Homo sapiens: one gene and its partner. The protein of the gene in region 1 interacts with the protein of each later gene in a pairwise test. Each region holds a gene or a part of one and is shown on either strand. Other genes may lie near its edges. The genes, in order: SMG7 and UPF1.

What was found.
Region 2: the proteins of SMG7 (region 1) and UPF1 interact in binary tests that used the Homo sapiens proteins (3 or more experiments, as listed by UniProt).

What each region holds. Positions count from the first base shown.
Region 1 is NC_000001.11:183,538,274-183,542,088, reverse strand, and holds part of SMG7 (nonsense-mediated mRNA decay factor SMG7), read right to left. Parts: intron 3,710-3,815; coding exon 3,649-3,709; intron 1,106-3,648; coding exon 986-1,105; intron 14-985; coding exon 1-13. UniProt on the Homo sapiens protein: Plays a role in nonsense-mediated mRNA decay. Recruits UPF1 to cytoplasmic mRNA decay bodies.
Region 2 is NC_000019.10:18,852,438-18,856,252, forward strand, and holds part of UPF1 (regulator of nonsense transcripts 1), read left to right. Parts: intron 1-549; coding exon 550-634; coding exon of another isoform or gene 635-667; intron 668-814; coding exon 815-913; intron 914-2,139; coding exon of another isoform or gene 2,140-2,163; coding exon 2,164-2,272; intron 2,273-2,441; coding exon 2,442-2,601; intron 2,602-2,686; coding exon 2,687-2,805; intron 2,806-3,487; coding exon 3,488-3,652; intron 3,653-3,748; coding exon 3,749-3,815. UniProt on the Homo sapiens protein: RNA-dependent helicase required for nonsense-mediated decay (NMD) of aberrant mRNAs containing premature stop codons and modulates the expression level of normal mRNAs.

The DNA of each region.
Region 1 (3,815 bases):
ACACTGAATCAGCCTAAAAAAGCAAAAATAAATCCATATATAAAAAACATTAACTTAAAAAATAACAACTGAATTGTGTGTGGATCCAAGTCAATATATTCCTAGCACTAATAACCATGAAAACAGCAGGATATAACAATGTGGATTCAGGTAACACAAAAAGTAGTTATGTAGAAACTGAGGTTCTCATTATCACACTTAACATCGTCACAACCTATCCCTCTGGCTCTTTCAACGTTTGCTAGAATTTACATTTTCTGAGCATGCTTCAAGTGCAAGACACTGGTCTAGGGCCCTTGATATGTCCTATAAGGTAGCTATATATAATTCCTATTCTATAGATGTGAAAATTGAAGCTTGGAGGTGGTAAGTTCATTCAAACATGGAAGCATTTAACTACCTACTGTATGACAGAAACCTGAATACAAAAATGAGGAAGTAGTTAGTGACTTTGGAAAGGTTATAATCTACTGGGGAGATCCCAAGGACACCCACTTGAGAAGCTGCGGAACTCGAAACGGAACTCAAACCAATGGAATTACAAAACCTGCGTTCTTTTCCCTACACTAACGACCACATCTGCTTTGTACTTAACTGGCTACTAGCACGATCTTGGTCTGTCCTGCCTGAAACTGACTACCATGCCCAGGCCAATACAAATTACCATGACTGTGAAAGTACAGTTCAGTTAGATTTACAGAGATATTTATAAATTAGAGCAGAAACTCACGATAAACAAGAAAGACCTCTGTAATACACAATAGGGAGAACAGAGATTCTAAATAAAGAGTATACTTACTCACTAGGGTTATAATTAGATGTTGTGCTACCAACATGTCGATTTAAGAGTTCATGATTGACAATATTTATACCAAAGCCTAAAATACGTAACATATGAGATGTGTGTGTGTGCGCGCGCGTGTGCGCGCATGTGTTTATCTAAAAAGGTGGTTAAAAAGGGGTAGACCAGAAGTTCCAGACTTACCTTGGCTGATTATCAGCAATCCATTTGCCTATAGAGATCAAGCGTTGCTGTCGTATTCGTCGTTGCTGGCCTTCTTTGTCCCCTGTAATACCCTGGTGACCTTTGGAAAAATCCAAGTTCCTAAAATTGACACAAGCAAGTTATGAGAATATTAAATTGCTAAAGATATTTTCCAGGCAACCAAGTTCACCTGATTAACTGTAATGGCTTCAGATTACTTCCCACATAGGTTAGCTACTTGATGTAATCAACTGCATTTATTAGAATTTATACTACCAGAGATTTTTACAAACTATGAAACAAAGCAGAAAAGAAAATATACAAATTCATTACATTAATGTAATATTTTTACTCACATTTCACTTTCTAGTCAGGGAGCTCAAATAAACCACAACTTTTTATTAGGAAAGATTCTTTTATCATTTTAAGAATAAAGTTTTATAAACATTTATCTTGCATGCCAAGTAATTTGCTTGAAATGACCATGGCAATGCTAAGAGTCTCTGAGGTGCCTATTTTAATAAATAATATTAATCTATCCACTTTGTGGTGGACCATTCTAAATCAGAAAAATGTATAAATATCGTAAAGCATATAGAATAACTCATTGATATCAGAAGGGTAAACCAACCTGAAAAAATAAAGATTTTTCAGATTTCTCCTTATTAAACTTTTTTTTTTTTTAAGAAGATTTAAGAATTGCCAGGCAGAAGGCTAGATGCTGAGGACACAAAGATAAATAAGAGTCCCTACCTTTGGGAATAAATAATTATGATTCAATCTGATAAGCATAATAAGAACTATGTAAAGAATTAAGTGAATATAGTAAAAGGAGGATGAGTTCCTTCTGAGAAGCTCTGAAAGGTTTCATAGAGTGATACCTGAGCTGGACCTTGACAGGTATGGCTAAGTGCTTACCAGGCTGGTGATGGAAGGGCAGTAGAGGAGAAGGAAATGTTCTAGGCACAACATGAACAAAGGTGTGGAGGAATAAAAATAGTGAGCTATTCAAGTATAGCACATAGTGTATAGAGTTTATAAATACTGGGGGAAATGGAAGAAAATAAGGCTGAACAACTAGGAGCTGGATAGTGCTGGAACTTGAGCATCAAGCTAAAAGAGACAGTGGAGCAACTGGGAATGGGTAAATAAAAATATTAGTCATGCAACATCACTATTTCCATACTTAAAAACTATAGGCAGTGTAGAAACAGACTATAGGAGGAGAAGAACTATACGTAGGAAGGTTTTTATACTTCAGGTAAACTGGTGAGAAAAGCCTGAACTATGTATAGGGAAATAAACGGAAGGACTTGAACCTAAGAAGCATTTCAGACACATAATTATAAAGGCTTGGTGAGAAAGACAAATAGAAACAAGGGTTTTTCAGATTTCTAGCTTGGTCATATAGATGGGTAATGCCACAGGCACAGACAGAAAATAGAGAAAGAAGATTGCTTTTTGGCTGACCAAATCGGAAAATATAAGCTCAGTTTTTGGTCACGTTAAAGTTTAAAATGCGTAAGGGAGGTCAGATTGTTAGAATATGCATCCAAACTTCAAGAGAAGTCAAAGCTGAAAATTTGGGACATACCATTCAAGAGACATAGGGATGGATTTGATTAACAGGGTGAATGTACAAAGTGAGAAGGAAAGGGCAAGAAAAGAATCCTGGAAAACAACAACATTCAGAGGCATGTAGTTTAAAAGAAATAGTGAAAAAGACTGAGTGCTAAGGGTGGGAAAAATTGCATCACAGAGCTAAGGAAAAAGGTTTCATGAAGGAAGGAAATCGACGGACTCAATGCTGAAGAAAATTCAATAGGATAAAGACTATAGTCACTGGATTTTGGTATCTAGAAGGCACTGATAGTTTAAACCACAGTAGGCTGAAAATGATCAGGAGTTGAAGTGGAGTCAGTCAGGTTGGCCCACGCTACTCTTTTTTTTTTGAGACGGAGTCTCACTCTGTCACCCAGGCTGGAGTGCAGTGGCGTGATCTCTCAGCTCACTGCAGCCTCTGCCTCCTGGGTTCAAGCGATTCTCCTGCCTCAGCTTCCTGGGTAGCTGGGACTATAGGCACCCGCCACCATGCCCGGCTAATTTTTTTTTTTGTATTTTTAGTAGAGACGGGGTTTCACCGGGTTAGCCAGGATGGTCTCGATCTCCTGACCTCATGATTCACCTGCCTCCGCCTCCCAAAGTGCATACTACTCTTTTTAAGAAGTTTGATGATGAAAAGATAAGGCAACGTAGGAAAATAGAGGGATGTAAATTCATTTTACCTTTTTAAAAGAATGGGGCACACTTAAATGTTACTAGGCTAAAGATAATTAGTTGTTTAAAAAAGAAAGGAAAGAAAGACAAGACACTGGAAATACAATGCAGAGAGGATAACAGATGGAGCAAGGTTCTTAGGGAGGTGAGAAGGGATGGGATCAAGGGCACAGATGGAAAGGTTACATTTTAATTTTTATTACACAGGAATTGAAGGCGTGACATACACAAATCCAATTCACAACAACTTTCAGTATTAGTTGACGTTACAAAAATAACACACAGCTGGGACAGATCAAAGGTTCCTCTACATCCAAGCCCAATTCTCTGCTAATTTTAATACTGCAATCACTGGCAATGATAAAGGTACTTCAGCTATCACCTACCTGAAAGAAGGTCTCAATGCCAAAAATCCTTGTAATTCAAACTCCTCTGGAAGTGGTGTCGCTAAAGGGTCAAAATCAAAATTTGCAAACATTTTAATTAAAATGTTGTTTGGTGGAATACTGTTCACTAAATTTTTTTAAAAATTAACATACAGAAAGAAATTATA
Region 2 (3,815 bases), on another chromosome or scaffold:
GGATCCGGGCCTGGCAGCCCGGTGGTCTGAGCCCCCGCCCTCAGATCTGACATCAGCCTCAGTGTTTTCTGTTTAAATCCAACACATCTTTCCCAGTGGGGTCCACAGCTTTGCCCACAGTTGCGAGAGTTAGACTCGGGCGTGATCCCTGTGAAGACCACATTTAGGCAACGGGAGCCCTGGAGCGCTGACCTCCCCTCCCTCCCTCCCCTCCTCTTTCTGTCCCTCCCTCCCCTCCTCTTTCTGTCCCTCCCTCCCCTCCTCTCTCTCTTCCTCCCTCCCACAGCAGCTGCTCCCTGGCCACGGAGGCCTCTGGTGTGCGGTGAAGCCTCCAGACGGGATTGGCCTGTGTGTGTTCCGGGGACTCCTAATGGCTTCTCTTTCAGATGTGCCCTTGGTGGCATTTGGGGCTGCAGGTGCCACTCACGGCGCCTGCTCTCACGGCAGAGGCTTGCTGTAGGGCCCGCCTCATGGGGCCTCGGGCATGTGGAGGCCAGGCCCGGGCCTGTGCTGGAGGCTAACCGGGGCTCTTGTTTTTCATGTGCTCAGACTCAAGATAACATCACTGTCAGGTGGGACCTGGGCCTTAACAAGAAGAGAATCGCCTACTTCACTTTGCCCAAGACTGACTCTGGTAATGAGGATTTAGTCATAATTTGGTTAAGAGGTGATTTTAAGTTTTAAAATATTTGTGACCATAAGTAGCATAAATTCCTAGTTCCACCCTTGTAAAGTGCCCCTTAATTTGAACTCTCCCTGGTGGAAGCGACGGCGTGGGTTAAAATGGCCACCTCTCTCACTTTTTTACCTCAAGACATGCGGCTCATGCAGGGGGATGAGATATGCCTGCGGTACAAAGGGGACCTTGCGCCCCTGTGGAAAGGGATCGGCCACGTCATCAAGGTCCCTGATAGTATCCTTCATGTGAAGAGGGTGTGGCCGGCTGGTGGGAGAGGAAAGTGGGGGCATCAGGTGGAGGCCACTGTGGATTTGATGCTCACTGCTGGGCCAGCATCTCATGCTCTGTGGTGGGTGCTGGTTGGCATCGCCCTCCACTGCTCTTAGGAGAATCACAGGGCCTTCACCTTCAGGGGACAGCTGGTTGTATGGTTGCTTCCCCTCTGCCCGAATGGTGATGTTGGTGATGCCACTTGTGTGGCGCGTCCCTGGGCTGACTCTGGAAGTTAATGTATGCCGCTTGTGTGGCACGTCCCTGGACTGACTCTGGAGGTTAATGTGGCTGCAGGAGCGCCTTACCTGGACGCTGACTCTGCACACGGAGGTTCCAGAAGCCAGTGGTCACATGCAGACCCTCTGAGCACACACTTGCTCCCAGGCCATGTTTGGGAATGTGCAGTGACCTCATGGTGATGCAGCCTGCCGGCCAGAGTGGGGCAGCTGTAAGGCACAGGTGCAGTCAGAGGCTTGGGTGGGGAGGAGTCCTGGGAGAAGACACCGCGGGTCAGACTCAGGCTGCCTCTTGGTGACTGGCCAATGCTGCTGGGGCCTGACCATTCAGCGGTGGCCTCCACAGGGGTAGGGAGAGTTGTCTCCCACACCCACCCTGGGCCTGACAAGCTCATCCTGAACACGTGAGACCGGTTTTGGGGCTCGGGGTCGAGGGAAGGGTGTTGCCTACCGGCCACAGCCTCCTGGAGGGCAGTTTGCTTGTGTATGTGGAGCCTTTTGCTTGGCCGTACTGGGAGGGGTGTTGTTTCTGTGGAACTGTGAGAAGAGCTGCTGTGGCCAAAGCTGGGTTCTGCGAGCTCTGCCTGCCCCTGCTGGCCACATGTGCAGGAGCTCCCGGTGAGGTCCTGGGGCCCAGGATGTGGCTGCTCCCTGCTGGTGAGCGCTGCTGGCTTCGCTGCCGCCCTCTGCGTCTCTGAAAGGGGCCTAGATGGGTGGCTGGGAGTGGCAAGGAGGAACTCCAGGCTGGCTGGGGGTGGGACACCGGCTCATGGTGAGGTAGAGTCTTTCTTCAAGGATGCTGTCCTTCTGGTCTCTGGTCTGGTGTTGGCTGCACGTTTTTAGCGTTTGGTGCAGAGCCAGCGGTGTCTTAAGTAACTAAATTTTAAAAACGCTGTTTAAAGAGCGTGTACCAAGGGTGGCCCAGAAAGGTCAGCCCGGCTTTTGACAAGGATGCAAACTTAACTCAGCACACAGATTATGGCGATGAGATCGCCATTGAGCTGCGGAGCAGCGTGGGTGCACCTGTGGAGGTGACTCACAACTTCCAGGTGGATTTTGTGTGGAAGTCGACCTCCTTTGACAGGTACGTCTTCTCCCATCACTGCCCCCTGTTCCCTGGTTGCCACCTGTGGCATCTTTATGAGCCCTCCCCGTCACTGTGGAGTGGGGTTCCCCACCCAGCTCTGCAAACTCAGGATGTCGGAGAGGCGGCCACAGCTGTGCGTGTCGCCAACCCCAAACCCTCCTCACAGGATGCAGAGCGCATTGAAAACGTTTGCCGTGGATGAGACCTCGGTGTCTGGCTACATCTACCACAAGCTGTTGGGCCACGAGGTGGAGGACGTAATCATCAAGTGCCAGCTGCCCAAGCGCTTCACGGCGCAGGGCCTCCCCGACCTCAACCACTCCCAGGTGCGCGCCGTCCTCAGCGCGCGGGGCCTCGCCCATGGGCCGGGACGCAAGCGGAGGCTGCCCCTAACGGCCGCTTGTATTGAAGGTTTATGCCGTGAAGACTGTGCTGCAAAGACCACTGAGCCTGATCCAGGGCCCGCCAGGCACGGGGAAGACGGTGACGTCGGCCACCATCGTCTACCACCTGGCCCGGCAAGGCAACGGGTAGGGCTGACACGGCCCTTGCGGGCAAGACCCGGGAGGGCTTTAGGGTGGCCAGATGGAAGGCCTGGTGCTGGGAGCCTTGGGCTCTGTCACACCGAAGAGAGCACGTGGCGGGTAGTGTCGCCATGGTGCCTACCGCTCTCTATGTGACATTATTCGTGTCAGCTCCAACCTTAGGATTGCATTTTAGTAACCAGGTCTGCTACTGGTTTAGAAAACTGGGGGCAGGGGGGGCATGGCTGCAGCAGCGTGAGTTCCGTGTGCGGCACTTTATAGTGTGGCGGGATGGTGCAAGTTCCAGCCTTGGCATTGCTTGCGGTGGGTAGAGCTGTGAAGCCTGGGCTGTCTGGATCTGAGCTCCTTCGGCATCGTGTCATTACTGCCTGTTAAAAATGTCAGGAGTTTAAGGCCAGCCTGAACAGGGTGAGACGTCTCTACAAAAAAAAAATTCAGAAATTAGCTGGGGGTAGTGGCGTGCACCTGTGGTCCCAGCTACTCAGGAGGCTGAGGTGGGAGGATTGCTTGAGCCCAGGATGTTGAGGCTGCAATTAGCTGAGATCACACCACTGCACTCCAGCCTGGGCAACAGAGCAAGACCCTGTCTCAAAAAACAGAGTCTTGGCTTACTACGTTCACCGAGCTTCCTCTGGGTAAGCACTGAGCTGCCCCAATGGTGTTGCAGGCCGGTGCTGGTGTGTGCTCCGAGCAACATCGCCGTGGACCAGCTAACGGAGAAGATCCACCAGACGGGGCTAAAGGTCGTGCGCCTCTGCGCCAAGAGCCGTGAGGCCATCGACTCCCCGGTGTCTTTTCTGGCCCTGCACAACCAGATCAGGAACATGGACAGGTGTGTGTCGAGTCCATCCCTCCCAGTTGGTCCCTGAGCTTCTGCGGGTGACATGTACAGAACTCAGGCACCCTGCTGACCTGCATGTGCTTCCAGCATGCCTGAGCTGCAGAAGCTGCAGCAGCTGAAAGACGAGACTGGGGAGCTGTCGTCTGCCGACGAG